Linked DNA regions of Homo sapiens: region 2 is linked to region 1. A link means that fine-mapping ties the variant in region 1 to the expression of a gene that starts in the linked region. Tissue or cell type: monocytes. Region 1 holds a variant in brackets; the other region holds the start of a gene. All regions are shown on one strand. Distances are between the middles of the regions.

Region 1 (10,781 bases):
CCTGTAATCCCAGCACTTTGGGAAGCCAAGGCAGGCAGATCACCTGAGGTCAGGAGCTCCAGACCAGCCTGGCCAACATGGCAAAACCCTGTCTCTACTAAAAATACAAAAATTAGCCGGGTATGGTGGCAGGCGCCTGTAATCCCGGGCATGGTGGCTCACACCTGTAATCTCAGCACTTTGGGAGGATTGTACTTGGTTATGTCTGTGAGGTCTCTTTTCAATCTTTTTTTTTTTTTTTTTTGAGATGATTTCGTTCTGTCACCCAGGCTGGAGTGCAGTGGCACAATCACTGCTCACTGCAACCTGAACCTCCCAGGCTCAAGCGATCCTCCCACCTCAGCCTCCTGAGTAGCTGGACTACAGACATGCACCACCATGCCTGGCTAATTTTTGTATTTTTTGTAGATATGGTTTTTTTTGTTTTTTTTTTTTTTGAGATGATTTCGTTCTGTCACCCAGGCTGGAGTGCAGTGGCGTGATCTCGGCTCACTGCAGCCTCCGCCTCCCAGGCTCAAGCAATTCTCCTGCCTCAGCCTCCAGAGTGGCTGGGATTACAGGTGCACACCACCTAGCCCAGCTAATTTTTATATTTTTAGTAGAAACAGGGTTTCTCTATGTTGGCCAGGCTGGTCTTGAACTTCTGACCTGAAGTGATCCACCTGCCTCGGCCTCCCAAAGTGCTGGGATTACAGGCCTGAGCCACCGTGTCTGTCCCAGGATTTTGCTATGTTGCCCAGGCTGGCCTCTAAGTCTTGTCCTCAAGCAGTCCTCCTGCCTCAGTCTCCCAAAGTGCTGGGATTACAGGTGTGAACCACCACACCCAGCCCTTTAACTCCTTTTAAGCTAGAGTAGTCTCTCCTCTACTTTTCCCCTCAAGTTAATAGGCCTGTAGAATGTCCTACATTCTGGATCTGCCCTGTGGTATCATTTATAGCCTACTCATTACAATCCTAATACCTTGTCTTGATCTTTTTTTTTTTTTTTTTTTTGAGACAGAGTCTGATTCTGTTACTGAGGCTGGAGTACAGTGGTGGGATCTCAGCTCACTGCAACCTCCACCTCCCAGGTTCCTGCCTCAGCCTCCTGAGTAGCTAGGATTACAGGTGTGTGCCACCACGCTTGGCTAATTTTTGTATTTTTAGTAGAGGCAGGGTTTCACCACGTTGGCCAGGCTGGTCTTGAACTCCTGACCTCAGGTAATCCTCCCACCTCAGCCTCCCAAAGTGTTGAGATTACAGGCATGAGATACTGTGCCCAGCCTTGATCTATCTTTGATCTAACTCTTGTATATGTAATTATAGAGTCCCAAAGAAAAAGTCTCGTGTGTGAGTATGTGCAAATGAATGTGTGTGTGTGCGTGTGTGTGTGTGTGTGTGTGTTTGGCTTCAACGTTACAGTTTTCCACATACTACATCCTCAATAAACACCTGCTGAACAACATTTATTAAGTCTACTACCTGAAGAATTGTGTACTAGGGAGAGATACAGAGAAAAAAGGAGACAGATTCCTAACCTTGGTGTTTCTAGTCCTGTTTATACAGGACAGTGGTTCTCAAACTTGAGAAGGCTTATTAAAAACACAGACTGCTGGGTCCTACCCCCAGAGCTCCTGATTCAGTAGGCCTGGGATGAGTCCTGAGAATCTGCATTTCTAATAAGTTTCCCAGATGCTGCTGCTGGCCCAGGGGTCAATCTTTGAGAACCATTACTATCAGACATGAGCTTCAAAAAGTCTCCCACAGCCTCTGGTGCCCAGGCCACTTACAGAGTACTGATTCCCTAGGCTGCCACTTCTGAAGTCTCTCTGAACTCAGTGAGTGGCCTGATTGTCCAAACTTTCTGGTAGGAAGGAGCTACTTTGAAGATATGTCCTCCTGGTGGAGAGGAGTAAGATGATGGTGCTGACAGTAGGGTCCAAAAGTGGCTTCCTGATACAGATGAAAAGGGTCATCTAGGTTCTTTGAGTACCAAAAAGCCTGAGAGGCATGATGGGCAGCAAAAGCCTTTCCCAGGCTAGATACTGACAGCTTTGAGCAAGGGTCTCAGGGTATAAAGGGTATGCTTGCTCCTTTGCCTCCTACAGTTATTCATGCCATCCCTGCACAGGACTACCGCAGGGCAAGATGTGACTGAGGCTTTTTGCCACTGCTTCTGCTCCAGTATCTGCCATCTAGATATGGAATGAAAAGATGGCCTTTGGAAGCAGTGGGCAAAATGAAAAAAACTTTAAAGTCTTTTAAGAGCATCCTATTAAATTGAATCAAAGTGACTAAGTAAAAAAATTTTGTTATTTTGCTCAATGCTCCCAACTAGACTTTTTTTCTATCCCAGGCTTATTTCCTTTCCTGTGGATAATAGTTGTTTCTTAGTTTTCCTTATAATTCCTGCTATTCTTTCTATCCCCTACCTTATTCCTGGGGGCAGATTCCTTTTCCTTCCATCCACCCCATATATTTGGACATTTCCCATGTTCTAAACTCAACCTTCATCTATTCTCACTAATAGACTCTCTTTGATAAACATCTACTTTTTTGGTTTCTTTTGAGACAGAGTTTCACTTCTGTTGCCCAGGCTGGAGCGCAATGGTACAATCTTGGCTCACCACAACCTCTGCCTCCCAGGTTCAAGCGATTCTTCTGCCTCAGCCTCCCGAGTAGCTTGGATTACAGGCATGCACCACCATGCTCAGCTAATTTTGTATTTTTAGTGGAGACGGGGTTTCTCCATGTTGGTCAGGCTGGTCTTGAACTCCCAACCTCAGGTGATCCCCTCAGCCTCCCAAAGTGCTGGGATTACAGGCATGAGCCACTACGCCCAGCCCATTATCTACTTTTATAGCTTCAACTTTCCACTCATATGTTCATGGCTCCCCAAAAAAATACCTCCAGCCCAGACCTCTTTCTTGAGCTCAGACCATCATGCCAACTTCCTGCTGGATGTCTCCACCCGATGACCCACAGGTACCTCCAACTCAGTACATCTAATCCAACTTATTTTCTCCATCCCAATACTTACTTCTTATCCCCTTGCTTTATATCCTATCCCTGTTTCTCCAAACTCAGTGATGGCATCAACATCTCTCGAGTTGTTCAAGCTTGAAATCATGGAGTTCTCTTCAATTATTCTCTTTTCCTCACCTACTCTCTTGAAATATCTGGATAATGCATAATCTTCTTGCAATCTCCCCTGCCTCTGACTTAGTTCCAATCCTTATCATCTCTTTCCTGAGTCACTGCAGTGTATTAATGATAGCTGCTATGTATTGAATGCTTACTCTGTGTCAGAAACAGTGCTCAAATCCTTATATACTATACTAACTACATCTGTTTTCTGCTGCTATAAAAGGATACCACAGGCTGGGTAGTTAATAAAGAAAAGAAATTTATTTGGTTCATGGTTCTGGAGGCTGGGAAGAGCAAGAGCATGGCACCAGCATCCAGCGAGGGCCTTGTGTTGCATTATCCCACGGCAGAAGGGCAAGAGAGTCTGTGAGACAAAGAGAAAGATGGGGCCTGAATTTATCCTTTTATCAGGAGCCTATTCCTGTGACAAATAGACCACTCCCATGGTAACAGCATTAATCTATTTATGAAGGTGGAGCCATAACTTAATCACCTTTTAATCACCTCTTAATCACCTATCTCTATGAGACCATCCTGAGCAACGTAGCAAGACCCTGTCTCTGCAAAAAAGAAATGTGAAAATTAGCCAGGTATGGTGATGTGCATCTGTGGTCCCAGTCTCAGTTGGGAGGCTGAGATGGGAGGATTGCTTGAACCTGGGAGGTCAAGGCTGCAATGAGCCATGACTACACCATTGCACTCCAGCCTGGTCAACGGAGTGAGTCCCCCATCTCAAATAAATAAAAAATAAAGGTTTTACCTCTTAAACTGTTTAATTGCAATTAAACAGATATTTTTGCCAACAGCAATCAAATTTGTTTTCAAGGGGTTATTCAAACCATACATATACCTTATATTTTTCCTTTTTGTTTGACTGTTTTATAATAAATATTATATCATAATTACTAATCAATGGGGTAACTATTATCATCCCCATTTTATAGGTGAGAAAACCAAAGGCTTAAAAATACTAAGTAACTGGCTGGGCGCAGTAGCTCGTGCCTGTAATCCCAGCCCTTTGGGAGGCCAAGGTGGGTGGATCACCTGAGGTCAGGAGTTCGAGACCAGCCTGGCCAACATGATGAAACCCCATCTCTACTTAAAAAATATAAAAATTAGCTGGGCGTGGTGGTGCACACCTGTAATCCCAGCTACTCAGGAGGCCGAGGCAGGAGAATCGCTTGAACCCGGGATGCGGAGGTTGCAGTGAGCCGAGATCACGCTATTGCACTCCAGCCTGGACAAGAGCAAGACTTTGTCTGAAAACAACAATGACAACAACAACTAAGCTTGCCCAAGATCTCCTGCTTTCTGGTAAGTTGTGGAGACAAGAGCCTGTGTTCTTAAACACTGCCATGTAGTGATGTGGTCCCAACGTTGGTGGCACTCTAGAATCACCTGGGGAGCTTTTAAAGACTACCATTTTCCCAGCCTCAACCCAGACTAACTGAATCAAAATCTCTGAGGGTTTGGCCTGCACCTGAGTATTTTTTTAAAACTTCTTTAGGTGATTGTCATAGGCAGTCAATACTGAGAACCCTTGCATTACTGTTTGTATGCATAACCGCTTTCTCTACTCCAATCCCACTCCACTCTGAATCTTCCTCCAGACTGCTGTCTAATTGTTCTTTTAAAGCACCACTGTGATGATGCAACTGTCCTGCTCATGCAGCTGCAGTGGTTCCCCTCTGCCTATACAATAGGGGCCAACATCCTCAGTGGAGCAGCCGGACTCTTCTCAGTTTGCATGCCCATCTGTGAGCCACCCTTCCGGTACTGTTTTTT[G/T]TGTGTGTGTGTGTGTGTTTTTGAGACGGAGTCTCGCTCTGTCGCCCAGGCTGGAGTGCAGTGGCGCAATTTCAGCTCACTGCAACCTCCGCCTCCCGGGTTCACGCCATTCTCCTGCCTCAGCCTCCCGAGTAGCTGGGATTACAGGCGCCCACCACCACGCCCGGCTAATTTTTGGTATTTTTAGTAGAGTCAGGGTTTCACCGTGTTAGTCAGGATGGTCTCAATCTCCTGACCCTGTGATCCACCCGTCTCGGCCTCCCAAAGTGCTGGGATTACAGGCATGAGCCACTGCGCCCGGCCTTTTTTTTTTTTTTTCTTGAGACAGAGTCTAACTGTTGCCCAGGCTGGAGTGCAATGGTGCAATCTTGGCTCACTGCAACCTCCACCTCCCGAGTTCAAGCGATTCTCCTGCCTCAGCCTCCCAAGTAGCTGGGCTTACAGGTGCCCACCACCACGCCTGGCTAATTTTTTGTATTTTTAGTAGAGACGGGGTTTCACCATGTTGGCCAGGCTGGTCTCAAACTCCTGACCTCAGGTGATCCACCCACCTCGGCCTCCCAAAGTGCTGGAATTACAGGCATGAGCCAAAGACCTTCCCTTACTCTTTACCTGCAGCTACACCACACACTTAAGATTTCCAATACCCTTGCACATGTTATTTGCTCAGCCTAAAGTGGCCTTTTCCCCTTCCTTCCCATCCTACCCAACCTTAACTCCCAACAAACAGCTCCTCCTTTTCCTTTGAGACACAGTTACAATGTTATCTCTACAATTTCCTCAGGTAGTATTAATGGATTCCCTTTTGTTCTCTTTGTAATTTGCCTAATTACTCTGAATTGCCATCATTTACTTACACATTTGTCTCCTTCAAAAGACTTTGAGCCTCAAGAAGATCTGTGTCTTGTATGGATTTTTATGGCCTAGTCCATGTCAGGTACTCAGTAAATGATGAAAGAATAACCCTTGCCCAGCTGTGCTGCCTACTGTCACCTGGTTTTATCAAGCAGTGGTCAAGAACAGAGTCCCCAGAGTCAGATGAGTCCAAATCCCAGTTCCATTCCCTTACTAGCTGTGTGGCCACCCACTTGAGACTAACCTTATCTACCCTCTCTCTGGCTTAGTCTTCTCATCTGTAAAACGGGGATAATGATAGTACCTACCTCATAAAGTGGCCATGAGAATTAAGTGAGGTTAATCTATATCAAGGGACAAGGGACCAGCACAGTACTTAGCACACAGCAAGCACTCACTCTCCATTCTTATTATTATTAGCTTAGAAAACAGCCTTCCAATATATTGATAACACTTATAGAAAATTACGTGTGTGTGTGTGTGTGTGTGTGTGTGTGTGTGTGTAGAAATACATGGGAAAGTGTCCACTAAAGTGATATTTTATGGTTTTTTAACTTACATTTTTCTTTACTGTTTGACTGTTTCACAATAAATATCAATTTTTATATGTACACTTAGCCACTTTAACTCCCAGAATACACCCATACATACACACAAACACTCCAATCCATAATATGCATATACAAACCCCACCAGCACACAGACACAACCACATAAACTCCCTCAGGAGGCAGAAACTCTGAGTTCAGATGTGACTCAAGCTCAGGGACATTGAAAACATGCCTACATAGTGGGAATGTTTAGACTTTAGGCCATCTCTGGCTCACAGCCAGTAGCGGGGAGCAGGCACTCCACCAGCTCTGGAATAAGAAAGTGGCATTCCTATCCATCCAAGCCTTCAAGTAAACACCCAACCTGGGTGTCTGGAGACAGACCCCCTTATGAAATGCAGGCCGTGGAGGAGAGACCCATCTATGCTGATTTCTCTCGCGGGGTGGAAGTGTGGAGGTGAGGAGCGGAGGGCTGGACCCGCCGCACAATACACAGAAGAATGCTGGGAAGTTAACTATCTCTCAGACCGTGCTGTTCAGAGGAAAAGGAACTGTCTAACTACTGTCAGAAAATGATTTATTTTTAGTCCCAAAAGCTTAGGAAATGCTAGAACTGGATGGTTGGAGCTAAATCCTACATTTTAATTGGAACTTCCTTTTTCTTTCACTGAAAAAGAAAACTTGTAATGACTTTTGAACTGGCCTTAGTGCTTAGACTACAATTTCACTATAGTTTTATATCAAATGTATTATCATAATTAGCCTACTCCATGTTAGAGTGTATTGTGACCAAGAAAAATCAGATGCCATAATGACTTCCAGAAATCAAATCTGCTTTTCTGTTGCCTCAGAAATGAGGCAAATCTTTGGACCCAGGTACCAACCCTGACATTTGGAGAAGAATCTGGGAAGATCCGTAGCAAACAGAACAGAACCCTATCCAGGGTTGAAGACTCTCATAGGGTGGGCACCAGTGCCAGGCCCCTGGTGTATACCCAGTTTGGAGTCAGGTAGGGAAATCACAGCATCAGGAAGAACCTATAGCTCCCCGACTCAAGGCAGCAAAGAAAGGGGGGAATCCCTTTGCTTAAAAAGACATGGTCTCAGGTTCTGTGTGGTGGCTCATGCCTATAATCCCAGCACTTTGGAGGCTGAATCGGGTGAATCACTTGAGGCCAGGAGTTCGAGACCAGCCTGGCCAATATGGTGAAACCCTGTCTCTACTAAAAATACAAAAAAATTAGTCAGGCGTGTGCCTGTTGTCCCAACTACTTGAGAGGCTGAGACAGGAGATTTGCTTGAACTCGGGAGCGGAGGTTGCAGTGAGCCGAGATCTCGCCACTGCACTCCATTGAAACAATTAGAAGAAAGAATCTAGCATTCTATCTTTGTATGTGGAGATCCTGTGTTGAAGTTTGCAGAAATATGTAACTGACCAGGGCTACCATGTACAGACACGGAGGTTGTACAGTATGTGATCTATACAACCCACCTTCCACACTTAGAATGTGTGCTGCACAACTTAGCACTGAATTCTATACTGTCTCATGTAACACAGATGATCCCAATCATCACCAGGCAAATGAGAAACAATTCAGGCAATAAATGAAGAGAAAGTAGCATTAACAACAAATATTTTACTAACTTGCAACTTCCTCTTGTGAATCAGGACCTCAGCTTTTCTTCTGCCACCTCAAATTTCCTAGTTCTTTCTTTTCTAAAATTGAGGTTTACGTATGTAATTACATATCATAAAATGTGCCATTTTAAGGTGTACAACTCAGCGGCTTTTAGTATTTCACAACTCTGTACAACCATCACCACTATCTAGTTCCAGAATATTTTCATCACTGAAAAAGATAACCCCCTACCCACAAAACAGTCACTTCCCATTAATTCCCATCTCCTCCCAGCCCCTGGCAACCATTAATTTGCTTTCTGTCTCCATGGCTTTGCCTGTTCTGGACATTTCATATAAATGGAACCAAACAGTATATGGCCTTTTATGACTGGCTTCTTGCCTTAGCATGTTGTCAAGGTGCATCTATGTGGTTGTATGTATCAGTGCTTCATTCATTCTCCCAGTTATTTCTGGGCATCCCAGATGATGGTTCTCATGCACTCAGGCCTAAGTCTGCTCATGCACATCTGCCCCCAAGAAACCACCTGGAAGAAAGGCCTCGAAGCTGCTCCCTCTGCCTACTTTAAGGATGTCATTTTCCCACATGGGTTCCATCTCCTGGTATTTTTCAAACTGGGAACCCTGAGGTGTCAAGTGATATTCAGTTACCATCAGTCCTCTCCCCTCTGCACTAGAGATACATTCTGTGCAGACCTGGGAACACTGTCTCTCCCTGCTTGAGTGCTGCCCATTTGCATTACTATTAAAAAAAAAACCTGGGGCTGGGTAATTTATAAAGAAAAGAAGTTTGATTGGCTCACACTTCTGCAGACAGTACAAGGAGCGTGGTGCTGGCATCTGCTTCTGGTGAGGGTCGCAGGAGGTTTACAATCATGGTCGAAGGTGGAGGGGGTGCAGGTGCCTCACATGGCAAGAGCAGGAGCAAGAGAGCGAGCCAGGGGAGGTTCCACACACTTTTGAACAACCAAATCTCATGAGAACTCTCTATTACTAGGACAACACCAAGCCATGAGGGATTCTCCCCGATGACCCAAAGACCTCCCACCAGGCCGCACCTCCAACACTGGGAATTACATCTCAACATAAGATTTGGAAGGGACATGCAAACTGTATCACCGGTCCTTAGGAAGGCACCATCTTCAGCTTTTAATTACGTCTCCTTCTGGTGTCTGAAGACAGGCCTGCTCTTCCACTCCCCCATCTCTCTCACTCACTCTGATCCTAGAGACTTGGGTTGGGAGGGAGCCCAAGACAAAACAAACTCTCTGTCTTCAGCTAGGTTCCCTCAGAAGCACATCTTAAGACAAGAATTGGTGTGGACGTGATTTTTTTTAGGATGTGTTCCCAGGAAAAAACAGTAGGGGTGTGAGAAGGTGGAATGAGGAATATGTGGAATCCAGAAAAAGATGTGGAATCCAGAAAAGGATATGGAATCAAGTGAAATCCCACAGAGGGTAACTTGAGCTCAGTCCCACAGGGCAGTGACAGTGTAAGTGAGACCTCAGAGTGGAGTGTTTACTCACTGCACCTGCCAGTCACTGGGTAAGGGCTGCTTTCCGGGTGTGTAAAGTCCAGACCCTTCAGCTCTCTGTGCCTTCATGCAAAGGGGGTCCTGGCAGCCTGAGAGCAGCCCTTTGACATAGAGATGCAAGTGCTGGCTGTTAGAAGTGAAAGCACACATTTCTGCTACACTGTTTCTCGAGGATTCTTTTTCCAACAAATATATCAGAACCTCCTACATCACAGTGCTGAGCACTTAGTATCTGTAATAGATAGATGGACAGAGAGAAAGAGAGAGAAGGAAAGAGAGAGCGAGGCTCCACTAGAGGCCTAAAAGTAAATTTTTACAGTCATAATTTTCTTTTGAATCATTTGAAAAAATAAGAGTACATTATATACATCTCTGGCTAACTCTTCCACTTACTGTACATACTTTGGCATGTGCAAAAGAAAATGAAACCAGTAGCTGCTAGATGGTTGATGTAAAGAAAGGAAACACAGGCCGGGCGTGGTGGCTCAGGCCTGCACTTTGGGAGGCCAAGGCGGGCAGATCACCTGAGGTCAGGAGCTCAAGACCAGCCTGGCCAACATGGTGAAACCCCGTCTCTACTAAAAATACAAAAATTAGCCAGGTGTGGTGGCACACGCCTGTAATCCTAGCTATTTGGGAGGCTGAGGCAGGAGAATCACTTGAACCTGGGAGGTGGAGGTTGCAGTGAGCTGAGATTGCACCATTGCACTCCAGCCTGGGCGACAAGAGCAAAACTTCGTTTCAAAAAAAAAAAGAAAGAAAGGAAGGAAACACAGACACTCAGGGAAATCTGTTTCATGAAGTTCCAGGTGACAAAGTTGATTGTCAACAAAGTGTCCAGTGTTTGATAAGCCAGGGATGCCTGATAATGTACTTCTCACCCTGGGTGTTGGAGGATCCCTCTCTGGTGTATGGAATGAATCTTATTTTCTTTCTTCTTTTTTTTTTTTTTTTTAGATGGAGTCTCTCTCTGTCACCCAGGCTGGAGTGCAGTGGCACGATCTCAGTTCACTGCAACCTCCACCTCCTGGGTTCAAGAGATTCTCCTGCTTCAGGAGAACCCAGGGAGCAGAGAACATAGCTCTGTAACTAACTTGGGAATGTTGTTGAGCTTCTTTGTTTTTCTCTTTCCTCAACTGTTTTGCCTCCCTCTCAAGGTTGATGTAAAGATGAAATCAACGGATATAAAAAGACTTTGAGAAACAAGGTATAATGTATTATTTTAAATGGTTTTTGGATTTTTACAAAGAAATATCAGTAATGGAGAGGAAAAGCTTAAAGAATGAGACTGA
Region 2 (10,781 bases), 37 kb before region 1:
CTTTATCCCCAGCTTTTTACAAAAATCTAACTTTTAAAAATGAAACACAAAAATCTAAATGTGTTATTTCTGTTAGTAAACCTGTCTTTGAAATCCAAGGCAGCAATAACTCCTTAAAGACTAATTCATCTTTGTTATTTTATCAAGAGAAAAATGTTATTCTTGCAGGTGAAAATGGCTAAACTGAAGTTGAAAGGAATGAGTCATCACTGATGCAGGAAGACAATTTAAATCTACTGTTTACATGACAGTAACATACTACAATGGTTGCATTATTTTACCAAATACATTTTATTGGATTAGCACTTTATTCAGTTAGACACTTCATAAAATAATCCACAATTAACAATCAGATAAGGTAATAAAATGGAGAGGAGGAAGAGATGATCCTAAACAGGAATTCTAAAGATGTTAAAATGGGTTTAAATAGAAAAGTTTTTCCTTTATGTGAGGACTAGCAGTGAACACTTTATTTAGCAATTTCTCTTAAGAATATCCTAAAAATGTTTTAAATTTTTTAAAAATAAATCTTCCAGAAGAGATATCTCAGAAAATAGTCCTAAAATGACTAAAATGTTATTTCCTTTTGTAAACAATTTTCTTAACATCTTCAGATGAATTTGAACTCTCCTCTAGTGCCATCCCAACTGTGTTTAGATGGAATGATAGTAACTTTGAGAAGATCTATAAACCTTAAAAGTTGAGTGAGTAGTACGGTTTTCTCTCCACAAAAAGGTTTAGCTATAGAACTTAAGATAATGTCAGTGTTCTTGTTCCACAATTACCTTAGATCACCTACTTTAGAAAACACACACATTTTTCCCCCTAAAGGTAAGGAAGCACTGCAATCAACACCACTATTACTGGCCTCAATACCTCTAGTGGGACACAGTTGCTAAGAATGGACCAACAAAGAATCTTGAGTGCTACTTGGGAAAGTTTTACCTCTTCTGAAGGGGACTTCAATCTCAAAGCCAGTTTCAGCCTATCTTGCTATTTATTTCCCGGCTGTCTCCTAAGATGACTGCACATCTATATAATTCTACTGGTTAGGTTGATTTCTTCGCTTGGTAAAAAAATCTTATCACAGCTTTTAATGTTTTAAAGAGTCTGACTTAATCCTATTTCCATTTCTACACTCGTGCTGAAAGATGTTGCAGCTGCACTTCAGATCACATAAATCATATCTGAAAACTGATTATAAATAAAATCACTTTAAATACACTAGGAAAGTTTACCATTTAAGTAAGTAATCCTATTAATAATCCTTCATTTAAAAATATTTTTAATCTGGATTTTCAAATATTTAAGAGAATGGGAACTAACATTCTTTGCCTATTTTTAGGCACTTAAATTATTCCCCTTAATCCCCACAGGCCTGGGGAGATTTGTATTATCCCCATTTTACAGATAAGGAAAACGACTTAGAAAGATTAAAAATTTACCTTTGACCCAGGACTAACCCCAGAGACCCAACTCTATCACACTGCTTCAAATTTACATAAAACAGTTAACAGCACAAATACTGAAATCATTTGACCTAGGTCCCAGTGTCAGCTGCAACATCATCCAGATAAGTAATCACAGGCCAGAAACTATTCTTTTTAGGCCTCAACTTTCTCATCAATAAAATGGGAATACTGACCTTGCAAAAAGTTCAGGGATGACCCAATGAATAGGATGTTTGTAAAAATACAATGAGCCATGGATTATCAAACAACAGTATTACCCTTACTTACTAGGTGTGAAAAAGCAGGAGATACACAGGGATTAAGGGTTACATATCTTTGGATTGTTTCACTTGGTATGAACAATACTGTTTTATAATTTAAGAAAATTTTTAAGGTAAAATAATTTTAAAATGCTAAAATGTTATATAAATGTAAGGCATCAACTACTTTACCAAACCAAGCCTTCCAGAATCTTAAACAAAATAGGTTAGACTGAAAAGCCTTTTAACAAGGCTTGTTGTTTATTAAATACTTTCAATTATAAAACAATTTATTCTGAACATTTTTGCCATTAAAATCCCACAACCCACTTACTAAATTATTTTGCACAAATACTTCTTACAGGTGAAAAGGCTGGATTATTTTGTTAATCCTTACTATGGTTTGAGGAAAACTAGTTGGCACCTTTCCAGTTCAGATGCATGTGGTCAAAGTAACATAAGCAGGCTGGTATGAAACTTAAAAGATCTTGGAGTCCATGGATATCTGAATCACTCCACAGTAAGATGGTATTTCAGAGGAGGAAGAAAATTCTTTCTTTCATACACATACTAAAGGGCTTTCCATGTTTTTGTGAAGGCCACAAATGGAAAAAACTACCACTGGCAGAAAAAACACAACACTGTGGTATCAAGTACACTGCCAAAGTTCCAATTGAAGCAATTGAATGTTGGTGTTTTTTTTTTAAATCACTTGCAAGCATTTTGGCATCTGGAGTAAAAGAAGTTGTTCCTATTAGTTTGTAATCCAAGTAAGGGTCTTATTTCCTCAATTAAATTTGCATAAATTTATCCTGAATACATAATTTTCCTTATGATGAATACTGTATTTTCATGCAAATATCTACAATTAATGTAAAGTTCCAATTTACTTTCTTCTTTACTAGTGACCAAATACTATATGGCACCTTCAACTTGTTGAACCCTACATCATATAACTTAGATGATTACTGACTCTATGCATATTTTTCCAAGCTTTTAAAAGCAAAATGTGGCCAGGTGCGGTGGCTCACGCCTGTAATCCCACCACTTTGGGAGGCTGAGGTGGCCTGATCACCTGAGGTCAGGAGTTGGAGACCAGCCTCACCAACATGGTGAAACCCCATCTCTACTAAGAATACGAAATTAGCCGGCCATGGTGACACATGCCTGTAATCCCAGCTAGTTGGGAGGCTGAGGCAGAAGAATTGTTTGAACCCGGGAGGCGGAGGTTGCAGTGAGCTGAGATCGCGCCATTGCACTCCAGCCTGAGCAACGAAAGTGAAAAAATAAAATAAAATAAATAAAATAAAAGCAAAACCTATCAAAGCTGCATCTCCTGGCTTGAAACCAACCAAATGTTTAATATTCAATTACTTTTATTAAAGTATACTATTAAGAAGTACAATACTAAGAAACTAGAATATCTTACTAAAAAGCAAATTAAATAACTATGAAATAACCCTAGCACCAAACCTTCAAACTACAGTTTGACAATTTAATGGGAGAAAAAAAATCAGTAGTATAAAAAAACTATGATATTTTAAATAAGTGTAAATTTTAAAATCTATGAATAGCAAAGACGATATTCTTTTATAGCTATGACATCATTCAAGAATTAAAGTCTTGGCAATGCCTATCATTATAGTCTACCATTTTGCTATGTAAATTTTAACAATTTTTATATGCTAAAGAGCAATCAAATGATAAATTCGATAGCACAGACTAATATCTCAAAATCTCTGTTCAAAAGCCAGTTTGATTCTAACTGTGAGATGTCATGATTTAGAAGCACTCCAAGAGTCAGGGCAAGGTAGGGTCTCAATAGGGTTCTGGAGCTGTTGTAGGTCAACTGTGATTTGATCTGGGGTTTTCTTTAGACTCCTTGCCAAACTAAGGCTGGATTCACAGGCCCAAAGACAAATGAGAACCAGACTGGCCTTGAAGGGGATGCTGCAGCTTTTTCAAATGAATTGAAAAATCTGAACATCAGATGATAGGGATTTCCGTCAGGTTGCAAATTTTATCTAAATATGTAGGAGCATTATCATCTTGTTCCAACATTTCTATCTCATAAAAAGCAAGGACATTAAAATTATAAAATTAAGCATGAGTAATACACAAAGAATAAACTAGAACACCAGGAAATAACATCGAAAATCCTCTAAACCTAGTGGGAAAAGTGAGCCAAAAAGAGTGCCAAGTTCTCCTGCAAGGCATTAGGCACGGATACCAATTTGAATTCCTGTACAAACCTACAAAGTCCCTGGAATCACTGCCTGGCAAACTAAGTTCCCATTCGACTGCAAAGCAACACTACCTACTCCTTCGTATTTCCAAATAGACCATGTGTATCGGCTCAGACAACAGAATATTTTAAATCTATTCCTTGAGCTAAAGGATACCATTTAAAGCTAACGATCCTGTGAATAAGATACTACACTGGTCAAATTTTAGGCTTTTTCTTTATAAATACATCCAAAGGCCAGCTAACTCTTAACCGTTGTTTGCATTCGGATTCCTGGTCTGATGACTCTTAGGGGCAATCAATGGGAAGTGAAGTTGAGAAGAAGGTGGGTGCAGACGGCTTTATAACTGTAAAAGTAAAGGACTAGCTAAAAGTGGCCGAACAGAGGAGCTGACACTCGGGAAAGTGAAGGTCGGGGAAGGTTCGTGCGGTTGTTAAAGCAAGACCGGGAAAGGGCAAACCTGGAAGAGGAGTGAAGGACTCTACTTCACGGGACGCAAGATAGGAAGTGCAGGTTAAGCAAGCGCGCAGGTGGGGAAGGGTGTTGGCCTCCCCTAGGATGGAAAGAGTTCAGGTGGGAATTAGAAGGAAACAGCCAAGACTTCACAGAAAACCTGTTTGAATAAGGAGGAGGGCGTGAGGTGACGCCAAGGCATTGTGGGGAACTCGGCTCACACACTACCAGTCCCAACTGAGCAGGAGAAACCCAGCAGGAAATGGCTCTGCTGGCGCAGAGGCAAGCGTTGCCAGCCCCTGCGCTCGCTGCTGGGGCTGCGCCCTCGGAGGTTACCTTTGAGCTGGGGCAGCGGGTGCAGCTCTGCCTGGCTGCCCTGGCTGCGAAACTGCGACGAGCCCTGGGAGCGCTTCTGCCTCTGCGCCTTGCGGACCGATTTCCGGGTGAAGCCGTCCACTTTCTCCGAGGCCGAGATGGCGGCGCTGGCAGCCCCCGCCGGCGGCGACGACGACGACATCTCCGCGGCCCTGACGCTTGGCAGCTCCGGCTGCTGCTTGCAAGGCACGGGCAGCGGCGGAGACGGCAGGAGGAGGCGGGGGAGAGGCGCGGGGTGCTCGCGCCCCTGCGCCCCGGCCCCACGGCCCTCCGGCCCCGGGACGCCGCCGAGCTTCTCCTCGCCGCCCGCCAACGCCTCACGGCCACATCTCAGCGCTGGAGGTTCCTGGTCCCCGGCGCGCGGCGAGCTCCCGGGGCTGACGGAGGGAAGGGCGGGGGCGGAGGGGGGTGAAGAAGTTGTTGACTCTGGGCGCGCAGAGCGGGTGGAAGAGAGCCCGAAGTTTAGACAACTGAGGCGGGGGCACGGGGGTGCGGGTGCCGAGCGCGCCTCTCGTCGCTTCTGCCCCCGTCGCCAGCCAGCCGGCCGGCCAGCACCTCAGCGGCCGCTGCCAGCGCAGCCCGCCCTGCCTGGAGCCTCCTCTCAGGGCGCTGCCATCGCGGGTCCCCTCGGAGCCACTGCCGCGGTGCCCGCTCTTCCCGGTCAACGCCGGCCCCTCATCGCCCGGGGCGCTGCCCCGTAGCCCCGGCCCTCTGCGTGCACACACTCGCTCCTTGCCGCGCTGGGCGGCCCGAACCCCCTCCCCCACGCGCCCGTCGGCCGCCCACGGAGAACCCCAGGCGAGCGACCGCTACAACTTGAGAAGGTGGTTGGTACAGGCGACTGGGGAGTGTGTGCGCGTGTGCGCGCGCCAGGGCGCGCGGCCCGGGGAGGGGCCTCGCAAGGGGTGGGAAGGAGGAGTTTGACTGACAACTTCCGCGGGGTCCCGCCCGCCTCTTGGTGCGGCGGCGGGGGAGGGGGCGGGAAAGCATGCCAGCCCTCTTAGCCAATCACACGGCTAAGCGGCAGCGACGGCGTGAGGTGCGGCCTCTTGAGGCAGAGGAGTGGGGCGGGCTGTGTGACGGGCTTCGGCCACAGCCAATCGTAAGTGAAGACGGCGAGCGGGGTGCCCCTGCGTCAGAACAAATGCGGCAAATCGCTTGGGAGGGAGGGGAAGCGCTCCTCCACCAGCGGGCATTTTTGCGCTCACGCGCGACTGCTCCAGGCTGTCATTGCTCTCCTGACCGTCTACGAGAAGACTGGGAAACTTGAGAGGGTGCGTTCAGAGAGCAAAATAGAGCGCCCCTTCCCTTCCCTCACCTCTCTGCTGGCCAATGAAGAACTGAAGCGATTGGTGGGGCGCCGGAGGGCTGGGGCGCGAAAGAGCGCCAGGTGTTACACCACTGAAAGGGGGCGCAGCAGAGGTCAGGTGGCGAGCAAGCAGTGTGATTGACGGGCGAGGGGCCCGGGGAAGGCGAGAAGGTGAGCTCGTCCAATCGTTGCGAGGTCTGGACACCTGGGCGGGTCTTGGCGCCTTACTGGCCCCAAACCGCAAAATTGGTAGTTGCGGAATAAATTTGTAGCTCTTGGGAGGTTCGGACTCCGCAACTCCAGAGAGCTACTCTCGCGTGGGGTTTGGGCAGTCTAGCATCTGCTGCTTCAAAGAGTTCTGCAAGTCCACGCCCTCTAAAAAGAGATTTCTCATTCCCAATTTAGTATCCTGCTAATTTTCACCCCTCCTTGAGCCAAAGGCCCTCAACTACTCCAACGAGAAGAGTACAAATTCATTGGTCAGTGGTGTGTGGATATGGAGGCTTGCCATGTACTCTTACCGGAATCTCTTTCTTGGAGATTCCGTCTAGATTTTGAATTTCTTAAGGACGAGGACTGGTCATCTTAGTTTTTCGTGCAGTGCTTTCCATACGGTGGCCGTTAATAATTATTAATCTGAACAGTCAGCCTCCCTTTGCGCCAATGGACCCAAATCTGTAATCCCCTCCCTCGAGCTCCAGACCTTTTCCTTTCAACATAATAAAAGTAATTGTCGTATATTTAAACGAAGCCACCTGATGCATATGTACAGAAGATTCCAAATTTGGCAGGAAGTTGAATTCTAGACCTAGAACCAAACATACTATCCTCAAAACATTTCCTCCTTCAGATTTGCTGGGCGGTGAAATTGTACATAATCCTCCCAGTCAAGGAGGTTCAAACCTCAGCAGCGTTTCTGACACTTTTCGCTTTCTCACATAGTCAAGCTCCAGATCATGTTAAATCTACTTTCACAATTGGCGTTTCTCCCAATGTGTACAAAGACCGCCAAACGTAGTTCACGGCTTTCAAACTCACTGCCACATCAATCTTTTAAGATCACTTTTATCTTACCTGCGTGTTTGAGGAACCACCCAATACCTGCAGAATAGAGTCCAAATTCAAGACTCTCTGCGATCTGACTCCTGTCTTTCCAAGTGTAAATTCCTACATGTGCCCACAAAAACTCTTTTTAGTTCAGGCACATCATTCCACATACTGATCCCCTAAAAGAAGTTATGCATCCTCAACACTTAGTCTTTGCTGTTCCAACATCTTGAAATAATCCACTTTTTTTTTTCTTTTTTGAGACGGAGTCTTGCTCTGTCACCCAGGCTGGAGTGCAATGGTGGCACAATCTCGGCTCACTGCATGCTCCGCCTCCCGGGTTCAAGCGATTCTCCTGCCTCAGCCTCCCGAGTAGCTGGGATTACAGGCACCTGCCACCACGCCCGGCTAATTTTTTGTATTTTTAGTAGCGACGGGGTTTCACCATGTTGCCCAGGCTTGTCTCGAACTCCTGACCTCGTGATTCGGCCACCTCCGCCTCCCAAAGCGCTGGGATTACAGGCGTGAGCCACCGCGCCCGGCCCATTTTTTTTTCATCTTTTTGAAATTTCTTTTCTTCAAACCCCCTATCTTTTATGAAGCTTGACAATCCAGCCAGAAGTGATGCCTCCCTTCTTTGTATTCCTATTGCATTTAGTGTCCACACCACTCACAGCTGAAAGTTTGTCAACACCAAGAGAGCAAGAACTCAGTTATTTTATTTTACACCTCTGTTTCCCCTACTGAGCAGAGGATAACAATCACATTTTTAGTTCTCAACAGCAGAATTTCTGAAAGCGTGGTTACTGGATCACCTGCATCAGCATCCTCTGGGGTGCTTATTGAAAATGCAGATTCCTGGACCTCCCCCGCCTCCCCCCAACAGAACTAGAACCTATGGGAAGAGCACTGAGAAGTCTATTTTTAATAACTTCCCTAGGTTATTCTTATGTACACAAAAGTTTGGAACTACTATTCTCTAGTCATCTAGAAGTTATTAAAAACAGAATGTAAATGTCTGTAAGTCAGGAGTAGTACTATTTATAATAATTTACATAAAATAAGAAAGGGAGACAAATAGCAGAAAGAAAATCAGTACAGGCCGGGCGCAGTGGCTCACGTCTGTAATCCCAGCACTTTGGGAGGCCGAGGTGGGTGATCACGAGGTCAGGAGTTTGAGACCAGCCTGGCCAACATGGTGAAACCCTGTCTCTACTAAAAATAAAAAATTAGCCAGGTGTGGTGGTACGAGCCTGTAGTCCCAGCTACTCAGGAGGCTGAGGCAGAAGAATCGCTTGAACCCGGGAGGCGGAGGTTGCAGTGAGCCAAGATTGCGCCACTGCACTCCAGCCTGGGTGACAGAGTGAGACTCCGTTTCAAAAAAGAAAAAAAAAAAAAGAAAAGAAAAAAATAAATACAATAAAGCAAATTCTGTAAGTCAATACAATAAATCATATTCCATGTTCATACTGGAATGTGATAAATAATAGATACTGGATATAATAGAAAATACTGGAAACAAGTTTTTGGGAGTCTTGGAACCAGCAAAAACCATCTGGGCTTTGGTGAAACAGCCTCTTGGGGAAGAATTTTGAGCATAATTTTAAAGATCAAGTCAAAACCTGAAAAGAGAGGATGGCATTCCAGATCAAGTCACTAAGCATTTTCCAGGGGGAAGAACAAAAGCCCAAGAATCAAAATGCCTGACTCTGTGCTACTTATCAATAGAATGATTCTGTCCAGTCACTTTTTCCACATGTGTACATCAGAAAAAAAAAATGACAACCTTCTTCACAGGGCTGGCATGAGTTTTAAATATGACCCAAGAAAAAACACTCAGGGAAATAAAAATTATGTAGATGAAAATATTATGCATACATGTATATCAAACGTTTATTTTCCGTCCACTATTTTGAGTAAATAAGGTATCTGGGTCCTAGACAGAGATTTGGTCACTAAGAATCATCTAATAGGAAACTGCAATGACAGTACTAATCTATATGTGCCCCTGAAGCAGGAAGAGTGTCTTTGATTCCATGCCATAGAATTTCTGATCCTTCCCATATGTGAAGCTCCTTGGTCAAGAGCAATTTAGAGGCCAGGATTGCATCACTAACAAATTCCTTGGATGGTTTGTGCTTACATTACTTAACTTCCTTAGTTTATAAACGTATATACACTTACTGACCTTATCCTTTTGTTGAGAAAAATGATGCGAGAAAAAGTAATATCCACAACATCAAAATAATGGTTGTGTAATGGTTTTAAAGAGCACATCACAGAGAGTGTTCTTTTCAAATCACTGTGAAATTCTCTAAAGCATATCCAAGCAAAGTTTTGACTGTCAACATTCTCTTTCCTTAAGAGTCATGATTCCCAAACTGCTCCAATAGAACACCAGACCAAGGTGCCGGATCTACAGAATCAAAGAGTGGTAGTATTTTCCAAATTTACACAAAACTTCTCTCATGATCAGGCACAGTGGCTCATGCCTGTAATCCCAGCACTTTGGGAGGCCAAGGCCGGAGGATCACTTGAGCCCAGGAATTCAAGACCAGCCTGGGCAATGTGGCAAAACCCCATCTCTACTAAAAATACAGAAAATTAGGTGGCGGTGGGGGTGTGCACTTGTAGTCCCAGTGACTCAGGAGGCTCAGGTGGGAGAATCACCTGATGCCAGGAAGTCGAGGCTGCAGTGAGCACTGATGGTGCCACTGCACTCTAGCCTGGGAGAAAGAGTGACACTTTATCTCAAAAAATAAAAATAAAAAATATCTCATATCTTTTAAAAATGTTTGCATCTTACTACCACTTTACTAGAATCTAAATCAAGATAGTATCTGACTTATAAAAATACACTAATTTTTAGTGCCTCATTTCTATTTATTTAAATACATTCTCATTATTTAAAATTCAGAAGGAGTAAAAGGGCAACAGGAAACGTCTCACTCCCACCCCTGCTTCCCAACATCTGGTTCCCCGCTTTGGGGACAACCACTGCTATCAGTTTCTTATATATGTTTCCAGAGATATAATGTGTTTAATTGCTTAAGGCTTAGCAAAGTCACACTTCAAGAAGCTGCAGGAGAGAGCACCAAATCCTAACTGCTATTCCAGCAAGGAAATTAATATTGTTAAAATGTTCATCCAAAGCAATATATAGATTTATCCAAAGCAATATATAGATTTAACCCAGTCCCTATCAAAATTCCAGTGGCATTCTTTACAGAAATAGAAAAAACAATAAAATTCATTTGCAACCACAAAAATTCCCAAATAGCCAAAGCAATACTGAAAAACGAAAAGTTAGAGGTATCATACTTCCTGATTTAAAAGTATATTACAAAGCTATAGTAATCAAAACAGAATAGTTCTGGCATAAAAACAGACACATAAACCAGTGGAACAGAATAGAGAGCCCAGAGATAAATTCAACCGTATATGATAGTCTCTTCAATAAAGATGCTAGGAAAACCATACATCCACATGAAAACAATGAAATTGGACCTTTATACCATACACTAAAATCATCTTAAAATCAACATAGGGAAAATGCTCCTTGACATTGGCCTTGGCAATGATTTTTGTTTTTATATTATATCAAAAAGGGTACAAAAGCAAAAAAACTAAATGGGACACA

Direction of the effects. Alleles are on the strand shown, and positions count from the first base shown. SD is a standard deviation of normalised expression in the study named.
With allele G in place of T in region 1, the expression in monocytes of the gene that starts at base 5,628 in region 2 is higher (large effect, 0.87 SD a copy in BLUEPRINT).

What was found.
Region 2: PPP2R5A starts here. The variant in region 1 is fine-mapped to the expression of PPP2R5A in monocytes (TOPMed, PIP above 0.99). The same link has a PIP of 0.9 or more in blood mononuclear cells and non-classical monocytes.

What each region holds. Positions count from the first base shown.
Region 1 is chr1:212,243,355-212,254,135 of GRCh38, reverse strand. All of the region lies in intron 1 of LINC02608 (long intergenic non-protein coding RNA 2608), which reads left to right. Among named protein-coding and RNA genes, the nearest start is that of LINC02608, 36 kb to the left of the region's middle. RefSeq lists a silencer at 1,032-1,278. The variant G/T (reference allele first, on the strand shown) is at 4,911.
Region 2 is chr1:212,280,257-212,291,037 of GRCh38, reverse strand. It overlaps PPP2R5A (protein phosphatase 2 regulatory subunit B'alpha), which reads right to left and starts at 5,628. Exons shown (of 13, transcript NM_006243.4): 1 at 4,747-5,628. The coding sequence starts at 4,927. LINC02608 (long intergenic non-protein coding RNA 2608) reads left to right here and starts at 6,017. Exons shown (of 4, transcript NR_125984.1): 1 at 6,017-6,059. RefSeq lists a silencer at 4,896-5,865 and enhancers at 6,036-6,115, 9,382-9,551.